Regions from separate parts of the Homo sapiens genome. Here all the other regions are linked to region 2. The links come from fine-mapping of genetic effects on gene expression. A gene starts in region 2. Each other region holds a variant in brackets. All regions are shown on one strand. Distances are from middle to middle.

What was found.
Region 1: its variant is fine-mapped to the expression of NCLN in spinal cord (GTEx, PIP above 0.99).
Region 3: its variant is fine-mapped to the expression of NCLN in whole blood (INTERVAL, PIP 0.90).

The regions. Positions count from the first base shown.
Region 1 is chr19:3,335,924-3,340,070 of GRCh38, reverse strand. No RefSeq gene overlaps it. Among named protein-coding and RNA genes, the nearest start is that of NFIC, 29 kb to the left of the region's middle. The variant C/T (reference allele first, on the strand shown) is at 2,124.
Region 2 is chr19:3,184,237-3,188,365 of GRCh38, reverse strand. NCLN (nicalin) reads right to left here and starts at 2,436. Exons shown (of 15, transcript NM_020170.4): 1 at 2,152-2,436. The coding sequence starts at 2,335. RefSeq lists a silencer at 1,950-2,519 and enhancers at 3,030-3,169, 2,476-3,358.
Region 3 is chr19:3,224,835-3,228,981 of GRCh38, reverse strand. It overlaps CELF5 (CUGBP Elav-like family member 5), which reads right to left. Exons shown (of 13, transcript NM_021938.4): 1 at 3,984-4,147. Among named protein-coding and RNA genes, the nearest start is that of CELF5, 2.2 kb to the right of the region's middle. RefSeq lists enhancers at 50-589, 590-1,130. The variant G/A (reference allele first, on the strand shown) is at 1,878.

The DNA of each region.
Region 1 (4,147 bases), 150 kb before region 2:
CTACCACTTACAGACCACGGGACCTTGGGCAGATGGCGGCCTTGCTTCATGCCTCAGTTTCCCTATCTGTAAAATGCGGACAGTCATATGACTGTGGCTGTCACTAAGTGCTGTTTGCCCCAGAGACCTTCCCCCCAATCCCTCACTCCCTTCCAGAGCAGGGCTGGGGTCTCCTCTTTGCACCACTGGGTGGGGGGCGCCCTCTACCGCCTACCCACAGCTTTGAAAAGCCCTGAAGAACCAGAGTCTCCCTCCCTCAATGGGAGAGGCAACTCCTGCTTCTCTCGCTCTAAAAAGGAAATTCTGGGCCGGTGCGGTGGCTCATGCCTGTAATCCCAGCACTTTGGGAGGCCAAGGTGGGTGGATCACCTGAGGCCAGGAGTTCGAGACCAGCCTGGCCAACATGGTGAAACCCCGTCTCTACTAAAAATACAAAAGTTAGCCGGGCATGGTGGCGTGCACTTGCAATCTCAGTTACTCGGGAGGCTGGGGCAGGAGAATCGCTTGAACCTGGGGGACAGAGGTTGCAATGAGCCGAGATCACGCCACTGCACTCCAGCCTGGGCAACAGAGTGATACTCTGTCTCAAAATAAATAAATAAATAAATTAATAAAATAAATAAATTAAAAAAAGGAATTCCAGCCAGGTGTGGTGGCTCACACCTGTAATCCTAAGACTTTGGGAGGCCAAGGTAGGTAAATCAGTTGAGGTCGGGAGTTCAAGACCAGCCTGGCCAACATGGTGAAACCCCGTCTCTACTAAAAATACAAAAAAAAAAAAAAAAAAATTAGCCAGGGATGGTGGCACATGCCTGTAATCCCAGCTACTAGGGAGGCTGAGGCAGGAGAATTGCTTGAACCTGGGAGCTGAGGTTGCAGTGAGCCAAGATAGTGCCACTGCACTCCAGCCTGGACAACAGAGCGAGACTCTGTCACAGAAAAAAAAAAAAAAAGGGAATTCCTTGGCCTTTGCCCTTTGCCCTCTGACCTCCAGCCTCAGGTCTGGGGCAGCCAGTATGCAGTCTCCCAGCCAGTGGCCGAAAGGAGCAGGGTGACGGTCCTGGCAGCCCAGGGACACATCTGGATGGAGGAACTGAGGCCAGAGCTGGCTGGACACTGGCTCAGGGTCGCATGATGGAGCAGCCTAGGGTACGGGGGCCCTTCCTTGGGGAGGAAACCCTGGGGTCAGGGATGGGACCCCTCTGCCACTGGAGGTAGGGAGCAGGCAGCTGGTGCCCAAGGTGGGTGGGTAACGACAGGAAGTCGGTTACTGAGGAGGCAGTTGTTGGCACTTTGATTTCCTGCTGTGCCGCAGGTTATGTAAAGGGCTGGGAGTGGCCGGGCACCCCAACACCCCGCCCACCCTGTGCCACCCTGGGGCTTGTCGTACAGAGAAGGGAAGGAGAGGCTCAGAGTGGGATGTTTGGGAGCTTGCAGCCATCAGGCAGGAACGTGAGCCTGGGCCCCTTGGGACCTGGCACCATGACCTCAGTTCTCTGTCCCCTGCCCCCAGCCTCCCTCCACTGGGCTCCAGGGAGGTGTAGGGTGAGAGGTTCCCAGCTGATTTCTCAGCTCCCAGCCCTGCCTCTGACTTGCTTTGGGAACATCAACTTCAGTTTCCCATGTGTGCAATGGGCCTGGATTCTTTCTTTACTTTTTTTTTTAATTTTAATTTTTTTTTTTTTTTTGAGACTGAGTCTCACTTTGTCGCCCAGGCTGGAGTGCAGTGGTGCGATGTCAGCTCACTGCAACCTCTGCCTCCCGGGTTCAAGCAATTCTCCTGTCTCAGCCTCCCGAGTAGCTGGGACTACAGGTGCACGCCACCACACCCAGCTAATTTTTGTATTTTTAGTAGAGACGGGGTTTCACCATAGTGGTCAGGCTGGTCTCGAACTCCTGACCTTAGGTGATCCACCTGCCTCGGCCTCCCAAAGTGCTGGGATTACAGGCGTGAGCCACTGCAACTGGCCATTTCTTTACTTATTTCTGTTGCTGTTATTTTCTTTTAGTTAGCAGATACTTTCATGTTAATATACGTGAGGGCCCGTTCTAAAATGCATAGCTAGATGTGGTGGCTCATGCCTGTAATCACAGCACTTTGGGAGGCCGAGGCAGGTGGATCA[C/T]GTGAGCCCAGGAGTTCCAGACCAGCTTGGGCAATATGGGAAAAGCCCATCTCTACAAAAAAAAAGTAATATAAATTAAGAATAAATGCATTATAAGGATTAACACGATTAATCCTCTTGGGGGGTCTGACTGCTATGATGATCCCCACTTTACAGATGGAGAAACTGAGGCACAGAGCAACCAAGCAGCACAGGGTGGCAGAGGTGGTAAAGGAGGGGGTCAGGATGGGAACCCAGGCCCCTCTGTGGGTGGACTGCCCTGATGGTGGGGAGGTTCGTGTTGGCCTCCCCAGGACACAGATGGAAATACTGGGTCTTGGTGAGGGCCAGGGCCAGGCTCGGGGTCAGCGGTGGGTGAGCACAAAGCCAGACACCCCTGGTTGCCCTCTCTGGGTGATGGTGCCCAGTGTTCCACATCAGAGCACCCACCAGGCATCGTGGACATCTCGGAGGCCCAATTGGCCACCACAGTCACGGTGCTCCAGGGCCAGTCTGAGGGCGAAACTGTTCCCTGGGTGTCTGTAGTGTGGGCTGGGAGCAGGCAGCGGCTCTCACCCGGCATCCACCATGGGCCATGCTCACTCCTTGCATGGGCGTGTTCTCAACAACCTGGGGGTTGGGACCACAGGGATCCCATTTTTTTGGAAGAGGAAGCTGAGTGCCAAGTGGAGAGGCCACATCCTAGGGGCCCAGCAGAGTCCGAGCCTGACTCAGTGCCCTTGGCCTTGGCCTCTCAGACTCACTCCACTGGCCAAGCCTGTCCAGCCCCACACCCCTGCCACCGGCAGGACTTGGTGTGTGTGACTGGGGGAGGAGCGGGCCTGGGTGGCTGGGAAACCAGGTAGGGGTATGACCAGAGTGGGGGGTGCTGGGTATGCAGCCCCCTCCCTCCTGGAAGAGGCCTAGCCCGGAGCACCCCACCCCCAGCCCTGTTGGCAGAGCGATTAAAGAGAGAAGGATGAGGGAAAAAGCCTGAAAGAATTAAACAAACAAAGGGAGAGGTCGGTTTATATAATCTCTGGTACAACGTGTCCTCTTGAGCCAGGATTAGGCCGTGGCGTTTCCCAGGCAGCCGTGGGGGCGGGTGGCAGACGCCCTGCTCCCTCCTTGCTCTGTGCCACTGCCTGCCCTGGCTGCCTCCCTCCCCGTGGGGGCCCTTCTGTATCCCCAGGTTGGGGAAGCTCCAAGGGGGGGCCAGGTCCAGCTGGGAGGATGCCAGCTCCCCCTGGGAGGTGGGGGCAGGTCCGGGAATCGTGCCATCTGGCAGATCCACTCCCAGGCCTGCCCTGCACAACCAGCTCACAATCTTGGACAGACCTGAGACCTTGGTTTCTCTTCTGGGAAATGATTTTGTGGGGCTATAGGTATTTGGAGCCTGGTACACAGTTGGTGCTAAATAATTGCATACCTCCAATAACTGTGGAAGCTGGAATCAGGGCTATAATCACGATCAATTGGGTATCAACAGTAACAGTCACAACAATAATAAGATCTAACGATAGTTTCATTTCTCTTTATAGCATTCATCCTTCTTGAACGTTAACATTTTAATTCACGGTTTGTGTCTCTCCCTGGAGTCCCAAACCCTCGAGAAGGACAGGTGTCAGTGTCACTTTTGTTTGCTGCTGGATCTCCTGTGTCTAGGACAGAGCTAGACCCGCAGCGGGTACCTTGAACATATTTCGAGAACTTAGGGCTGAATCGTTCATGTGTATTGAGTGCCCTCTCAGGACCACGCTTTGCACTCAGCACAACCATATTGCATTTGAGCATTGCGAAACCGGCCAGGAGGGTGCTTCATTATTCCCATTTTTCCAGAGGGGGAAACTGAGGCCCAGAGAAAAGGAGTGACCTGCTCAGTCACCTGCAAAAAAAGTGACAGAGCTGAAATTCAAATGCAGCCCTCCTCGCTGTCAAAGTCTCCTTCTGGGCCAAGTTGCTGACTTGCTCTTCCCAGGCATGGGCGTCTCTGAGACTGGGGCCAGAGGAAACATTCAGGGCTGCCAGGGATGCCCGGGACTCTT
Region 2 (4,129 bases):
ATGCATTCCCTGGGCGGACTTGCGGGGAGAGAAAGGGGGCCCACATCTGCCCAGGGACAGTGTAGGGAGCCGCCAACATGCATTCCCTGGGTGGGTTCTTGGGGAGAGAAAGGGGGCCCACACCTGCCCAGGGACAGTGTAGCAGCCACCAGATCACACCTGCCCGGGGGGCTGGAGGGAGGCCGGGTGAGCTGGAGGACCAGGCAGGAGATGCCAAGAGTGTGAACAGGGTATCTCGAGCTCTAGGAGTGGGGTCTTTGGGGTGCAGACTGCCCTGGAAACCCCACGGAAGCCGCTATGAGAGCCGCAGGCACGCGTGGCTACTTGCGTTTATTACCCTCAAGCAGCGCTGAAAATCCTGCCCCCCGGTTGCACAGGCCACGCTTTGGGGGCTCGGCAGCCTCCTGTGGCTGCTGGCTCCTGTGCCAGGCAGCAAAGATGGAGGCGATTCTACAGGATGGTGCCCGTCAGGACCCTTCCCCCGGGAAAATCCCAAGCAGCACGGAAAACGCGGTCACTGCATGAGGAGCCTCTGGCCTTCCACTCCCACCCTCCAGAGCCTGGGCCTTGGGTTTATACACCACCACTGTGGCCCCAGGGCGCTTCCCCTGGACACTGTGGACATTAGGGCCGGATCGTTCTCTGGGGTGGGGCCGTCCTGGGCACTACAGGGAATTGAGCAGCGTCCCTGGCCTCCACCCACTCCATGCCAGGAGCACCCGTGGTCGTGACAACCACAGATGTCCCCAGACATCACCCAGCGTCCCCTCGGTTGACAACAATGGCTCTAAGTAAAAAAATCGTAACTCTGGGGCAAAATGGGACCTGAGGCCAAAGTCTGGTTCCATCTCCAGAGATGGGCTCCCCAAGGGCTGGCAGAAGCTGGGGGTCCCCGCGCCTCAGGTTGAGCCTGAGATGTGACGAGAGGGACCAATCCAAGAGAATCCGGGCTGGGAACTAAGGGGGCCAGGAGAACAAGCGGACGGGACTCCTTCACAGGGAAGGCCAGGCCTTGACTTCCAGGGACCTGAGGGGCCAGGCTGAAAAGAAGAAAAACCAGGGACCAGGTTCTGGAATGTCAGGGACAGCTATAGCCAGGCAAAGACAAGGGGATGTGGAATGGTCTAGACACTGGGGTCAGGGCCACGACGGGAGGGGGCGAGGCTGTTGAGTGGGAGACTTGCAGAATGCAAGGGCAAGGGGGTGCGAATTTGGAAAGGGAAGAGGAAATCCTGGAAAGATGGAACAAGTGGGGTTCTGGGAAGTGGGTGTGAGGAGGCTGAGCTGAGGGCGTGGGTATGCATCAAAGGCGGGACAGAAAGGGGGTCAAAGGGAACCCCAGGCGAGTGGACTGAACTGGGGACGTGGGAGGAGACCAGGGAAGCTGGGCTAGCAGATTCTGAAACATGACTCACGAACTGGGACCAGAGAGCGTCAGGGGTCTGGGGACAAATGTGCCCTTGACGTGGGGGCCGGTGACTAGAGCGAGAAAATTCAGGGGAGTTGAATTTGGGCACTGGACAAAATGCACTTGGCACCCAGGGCCGTGGGAGGGGGTGGGGAATGCTGGACCACCGCGTCGGGTGGCTCAGCCTGGCAGAAATCAGTGCAGGGACCTTTAACTCCAAACGCAGTCAGCTAAAGGCGAGAGGCCTGGGAACACGGACGTGACCCAGTGAATCCAGAGACCAACCAGATGGTCTCCAGAACAGGACCCTGGGAGCTGGAGGTCAGGACGGGAGCGTCTGCTCAAGTGAGCCCGGACCAGGAAGCCTAAGGGGCGGAGGGGGCCCAGGAGGGAGAAACTCGGCAAGGCAGGCAGACGCCGGCCCAGCTGGGGACAGGAGAGAGGGGACTTAGGGCTCCAGGGACGCGGGACGCTTGGCCCGGCCATGGGTTCCGGGGCAGGGAGACCTAGGCAGGGGCCGGGGGCTGTGGGAGCGAGCGCGGGGGGTCCCTGGGCGCTAGGCAAGGAGAGCAGGGATTCCAGGGCGCCCGGGGGTCCAGGGCGGCAGGGCTCTGCCTCGCCTGGGGCCTGAGCATGGGTCGGGCAGCCCAGGCCGGAGCTAGGGATCGGCCTGGGGATCGCCGGGCCGGAGTGGCGTGGCCGGGGAGCCCGGGGAGCCCCGAGGGTGGGCCGGGGACACGCACCGTAGGGCTGGCCCTGCAGGTCGTACTGCTGCATGCGGTACACGGTGAACTCGTGCGCGGCGTCGGCGGCAGGCAGCGGCGGCGCCACCAGCAGCAGCACAGCGGGCAGGAAGACGATGAAGCCGAGCGGCAGACAAGACGCCTTCAGCATGTTCTCCAGCACCTCGCCCGCTTCCTCCAGCATCCTGGCCGGCGGCGGGGCCGCGCGGGGCGGCAGCTGGGACGGGACGGCGGCGGCGGCGGCTCCCGCGGACTCACCTCGGCATGGGTAGCCGCCGGGGTCCTGCGGGCGCCGCGCGGGGCAGCCCGCACTCGCCCTGAGGTCCTGTGGGCACCGCGGCGAACCGCCCCGCCAGCCGCGCTGCCTGTCGGGAATTGTAGTCCGTCCGTCCGGCGCTCGCGGAGCCCTGTGGGAGTTGTAGGCCCACTCTGGAACTCCCGGAAGGTGCGGCAGGCTGTTCGGCTAATACCGTTGAGGTTTCACATAAACTCCAAGTCATAAAATGCAATAAAATGCTTTAAAAAACTATTTCGCGATATCACTTTCTTAACCTTGTCTTTGGCGTTGGGGGAGCTAGGGTGAGGGGCGAAAGGTGGGGACAGGACGTGACCTTGCGACCTGGAAGGAAGTTGGGGATAAAGAGAAAAGGAAGTGCCTGCCTGGCGCGCTAGGTCTTCTGGGAGTTGTAGTCCCGTCAAACACACAAAGGGTCACGGGAACTGTAGTCGTCCTGGCAGAAATTGCTGAGAAAAACAAAAATCACTTAAAACTCCCGAGGATGTAGATGTCAAACTCCACGAAGGCAAAAACTTTTGTCTGTTTTGTGCATATGATGTATCCCCGGCATCTAGCACAAGACCTGGCGCACGGCGGGTGGCCTATACCATTTTTGAATGAATGAATGAAAAATAGAAAGTCATGATAGTCAGTTCCTAAGGGAGGCCGCAGTGGGTTGTGGGACTTGTAGTCTGGAACCTGCGGTTTGTGCAGGGGTCGGTGGCAGGTATTTATATTTATCTTTATTCATATTTGGGGCATACTTATACTAAAAAAGTATTTGTTGTTCATCAGAAATTTAAAGTTAAAACCCAGTGTCTCAGGGCTGGAGGTACCTAAGGAACGTCCCTTTGTACAGATGGGGAGACTGAGCCCCAGGGTGCAGCAGACAGTAGCCCTGGCTCTCAGCACGTTATCATCCCAGGCTCCGTACAGCTGCCTAAGGAGTCAGGGCTTCCTTTCTGTCCCAAGTGAGAAGTGGCATTGGTGCCGATTAAGAGCCTGGGCTCAAATCCCAACTCCTCCATTTCCCAGCTGTGTGGCTTTGGGCAAGTCGCTTCACCTCTCAGAGTCTCAGTTTCCTCAGATATAATGATAAAGAATCAAGCACTCTCCCTGCCAGCAGCATGTGAGAATTCTGTTTGTTTGTTTGTTTGTTTGTTTGTTTTTGAGATGTAGTCTCTGTCACCTAGGCTGGAGTGCAGTGGCTTGATCTCAGCTCACCGCAACCTCCACCTCCTGGGTTCAAGCAATTCCTGTGTCTCAGCCTCCTGAGTAGCTGTAAATTACAGGCGTGAGCTACCGCGCCCGGCTAGAAAGGGAGTTTCTGAGTGTGCTGCTGGGTCACTGAGCACCTACTGTGTGCCAGCCGTGTGGTGGGTGCTGGGGACACAGCCGGGACCCCAGCAAAGCCACACTATCCACCGACACGGAGCTCGAAGTCCAAAGGAGGAGGTGGATTGTGTGACCAGGGGTGATGGGAGCTGGGATAGAGGACACAAAGGCAGCTGGGAGAAGCCCAGAGGAGGCCTAGGGAGGAGAGGAAATCAGAGGAGGCTTCCTGGAGGAGGTGACACTTAAGCTGAAACTCAAAAGATGAGCCAGAGCAGATGAGTGAAGAAAGAGGGAAAGTTGTGCCCAGTATAAAGCAGAGCTGTCATGCAGGGAACACAGGCAGCTGTGGGAGCCTAGAGGAGACCT
Region 3 (4,147 bases), 41 kb before region 2:
GGGGCGCGCTCAGCTTGAAGCCACACAGCACCCCGGCAGGAGTCCTTCCCAGGCGCGCGCCCGCGTACACACACACACACACACACACACACACACACACACACACGCCGGCCAACCCTGCCAGCCACCCCCAGCCCCCTGCCGCTGTCCCCGCCACCACCAGGGGTGCCAACTGCTCCCGCGGTCCCCCCGCCAGGCCGCCCAGCCCGCCTTCTCCCTGGAGCTGGTGCGTCACACGCGGAATCTCACGCCTCAGAGCTCAGCCTGCTACAGCCTCCTCCTCCCCCCCTCCCGAGTCGAGCCGGCAGCTGGTGCTCCCATGGAAACCGCGGGCCCCCACCCGGGCCCCCGCCGGGCCCCCCCCCCACCTGCACCGTCCCCCAGCGCAACCTCCGCTTTAAGACAAATATTGTCATTAACATGCAAATGTATATGCGATTACCATAAACGGGGGGCCCAGTGGCAGCGGCGGACCAGTACCACCGTGGGCACCTTCCCCTGGCAGGGTGGGCACCCAGGCAGCCACCATCCATAGACAGGGGCAGCCACAGCTCCAGAGGTGCCTGCCTTGGAGGGAGGGTCCCCGGGGCAGGAACTGCAGGGGGGCCAGCGGGAGCCCCAATCCCAGCCTCCAGTTCTTGGCCTGAGCCCCTGGCCTGGGGTGGGGGTCCTTCCTGGGGGAGGTCCCCGCTCTCTGGATGCGGAGTTCTGGCAGGAGCAGGCTTGTGGTCTTCCTGTGGGCCTGCATCTCTCTGCAGCCCCCTCCCTGTCTGTGTTTCTCTGTCTCTGTCTCTCTGTGGGTCTCTCTGTCTCTCTTTCCCTGCGTGTCTCTCTCTCTCTCTCTGTGTCCTCATCTCTCTCTCTCTCTCTCTCTTAAAAACAAACCCAGCGCCCCAGGGCCTGCCCTCTTTCGGAAGACCACCTCGACGCATCCCTCTCCCCCTACCCCTGCCCCGCTCCTGGATGAGGCCTCCTGCCTTTCTCTGAGTCTCAGCACGGCCTCTAGGAATCTGGCTGCCCCCACGCCACCTTCGGCCAGGCCAGCTGTGGCTGTCAGGTGTCACGGGCCCCTCCATCCCCAGCACCATCTCTGGGGGCCTCACTCTTGGCTTTGGGGAACCTGTCACCCCTATGTCACACAGATACAGGCACAGCTGCTTCTCCTGGCCTGGGAGGAAGGCAGGGGGGGTAATGGGGGCCTAGCTCCGGTAAATGTGGGACCCAGGGTATGTCTCTCAAGCCCTCAGTTTCCCAGAAATGCGCTGTCACTCGGAGCCCACCTCCATGGCGATGGGTTCCATGGGGAAATCAAACAAGTCCCTGCAGCCTGGACACCAAGGAAGGGCTAGAGGTGGTACCAGCTGACCCCCTCCGGGCTTGTACCAGGAGCCGGGTGCACCTCCAGGGTGTTCTCATCCCACCCCACTCTACTCCTTACAGATCTCCTGTGCCCAGTCTCATGGGCCCCGCCGGGCATCCAGGGAAAGGGATTTCTCTCCAGGCCTGGGGTCCATATCCCCAAGGCCCTGCCACTCTGAACAGGCACACTAAACCACGCCAGGGCTCCCAGAAACAGCCCTAATAAGGTCATGTTGGTGGCAGGTGTCTGAACTCACTCCTCTCCCCAAAAATCCTGACTTCCCATTCACCATTCCACCTCCCTTCAGCCAAGGCCCAGAGAGGGCCCAGAGAGGGGCAGTCACTAGCCAGAAGTCACACAGCTGAGCCCCAAACGCAAACCTGGATCACAGATGCTGATTCTGAAGACACCCCCCCACCCCTTCGTGCCAAGCACCTGCAGGCAAAGACCAGGTGAAGTCCAGCCAGGCCCCACGCAGGTGGGGATTCACTTCCCCGAGGGTACTGGACCCATTTTC[G/A]ACACGAGGTGAAGCCCCTGTATCTCACACACAGACGGACCTGGGACCCCTAAAAAGTGGAGGGTGATTGCCGGCTGTCGTGCACACGGCTTCTCAATTCTCACCCTCCAAGGAAAGCCCGCAAATGGGAAATACCCCCGAGGTACCCCAGGGACCCCAACATTCTCCAACCTGTAAAAAAAGAACTGGGGATGCGTCATGGTCCTGCTCTGTTGACAGCAGGGAAACTGAGGCTCAGGGCCAGGTGAAAACCCAGCCCCAGCCCCTCCTTCACCCCTCACTTCTCCCGTGCCCAGGTTTCCCAGAGATTTAAAAATAAGAAGGAAAAAAAAAAAAAGATGAAGAAGAGTCACCAGGATGCTCCAGTCCCTGCACCCCCACCTGTCTCTCCGACCTAGAGCTCAACCAGCGGCCTTTCAATGCAACCGTTTGGGGGGCCATGTGGACTCCCCCATTCCCACGGGAATCTTTCTAGAAATGGGTGCTTTGGGTGTACCCAGGGGTGGGGGCGTGTGGGAAAAGCCCACCTATCACCTCTGGACTCCAGATATTGACTTATGGGGGCCGCATGGGAGCCCCTCTGCCCTCCTAGGCCACATGGAGGAGTTAGATTTTTCAGGCCCAATTTTGTGTGTGTGTGTGTGTGTGTGTGTGTGTGTGTGTGATGGTTGGTTTTGAAAAGAGATGGGGAATGGGGAGGGGTTTCTTTCCTCCCTCAAGATAACCAGCTGGAGGGTCTAGCTGAAGTGACAGGCCTGGGCCCCATCTCACCAGACCCTCCCTAGGGCCTTCTTGAACCCCTTCATTCATTCATTCATTCATTCATTCATTCATTCAATTCATTCATTCAATAAACATGCATTCATGCTTACCGGGCACGCAGCGCTGGGGAAAAAGTGGGTGTAAAATAGGTCATGGGCCCCGGTCCTTCCCCAAGGCCTCTCCAGGGTCTTCCTGGAGGATGGGAGGGGGAGGGCCGGGGGTGTCCAGCACAAGGCCTTTGAAGTGGCACCCCCAGTCCCCAACACCTGACCGGAAGGCTGTCAAAGCCACCCCAATTCAGACGCTGGGCCCATGATGGGAACCAAGGGCTGGGGATACAATTGCCGGACACCCCCACCCGGGATGCCATCGGAGGGAGAATCCAGTGGGAGGGAGGCAGACAGGCCTGAGGCCGCCCACGCCTCCCTCCTCCTCCCTGTCCACCCCAGAATTTGGGCTCTGCCCAGATGGACACGTCCAAGCTCATTGTCTTGGGCCTGAGACCCCAACACATTGCTAAGAGGCTCGGCCAGTTTCAACTTGAGCCCAAGGTGGAGGCGGGGGAGGGGGAGGGCAGAGAAATGGAGGAGAGAATGCTGATCCACGCGGAGGTGGTGGGGCCAGGGGGTGGGCAGCGACGGGAGCCTCTCCGCCACCCGAGGCAGGCGAGGCGGGCGCGTCCCCCCGAGCCGGGCGCCCCCAACCCGTCTTCCTTTGTAGTTACCGATTAGCCTGGGGTCCTGGGCATCCGTGTCCCCCGCGGCCGGACCTGCCCCGCCGGCCTGGCTTTGTGAAAATAACCAAAGCAATGGAGTCCGCAGGTGCAAACTTCCCCGACGGGGCCTGGGGAGGCTGAATGAATGGGGGTGGGGGGGCAGGGAGGGGTGCCGGCGTTCCCGAGGCTCCCCTGGCAAACGGGCAGGAAAGAGTGGGGTGAGGGAGGGAGGAAGGGGTGGGGGTCTGGGGGATGGAAGGGTGAGGGAGGGAGGGAGGGAGAGAGAGGGTGCTGTGGGGGGAAGGATGAGAGGTCGAGGGAGATGGGAGAGAAGAGAAAGGGAGAGAGAGAGGGAGAGAGAGAGGGAGAGAGAGAGGAGATGCCGGAAGGTGGGGAGGGAGGGAGAGGGGGCGGAGGAGGGGAGGGGGCCCGCTCGGATCTGTCAGCTGCACCCCCAGAGAGGGGAGGAGGGGTGGGTGGGAGGGAGGGGGTAAGAACCGATGCTCCGGCAGAGGCAGGCAGAGGAGGGAGGTGAGCAGAGGAGGGATGGTGATGGGGGAGAGAAGATGCCGGAAGGTGGGGTGGGAGGCGGAGGGAGGGGGAGAGGGGGGAGGGGGCCGGGCGCCCACCTTTGTGCATCCCCGTGTAGGGGTCTTTGAGCACCGTGAGCTCGTAGATGCGGCCGAACTGCTCGAAGAGCGGCTTGAGGTCCTTCTCGTCCAGGTGCCGCGGGATCTGGCCCACGAAGAGTTTGATGGCGTCCAGGTCCTTCATGCCGTCGGGCTGCCCCCCG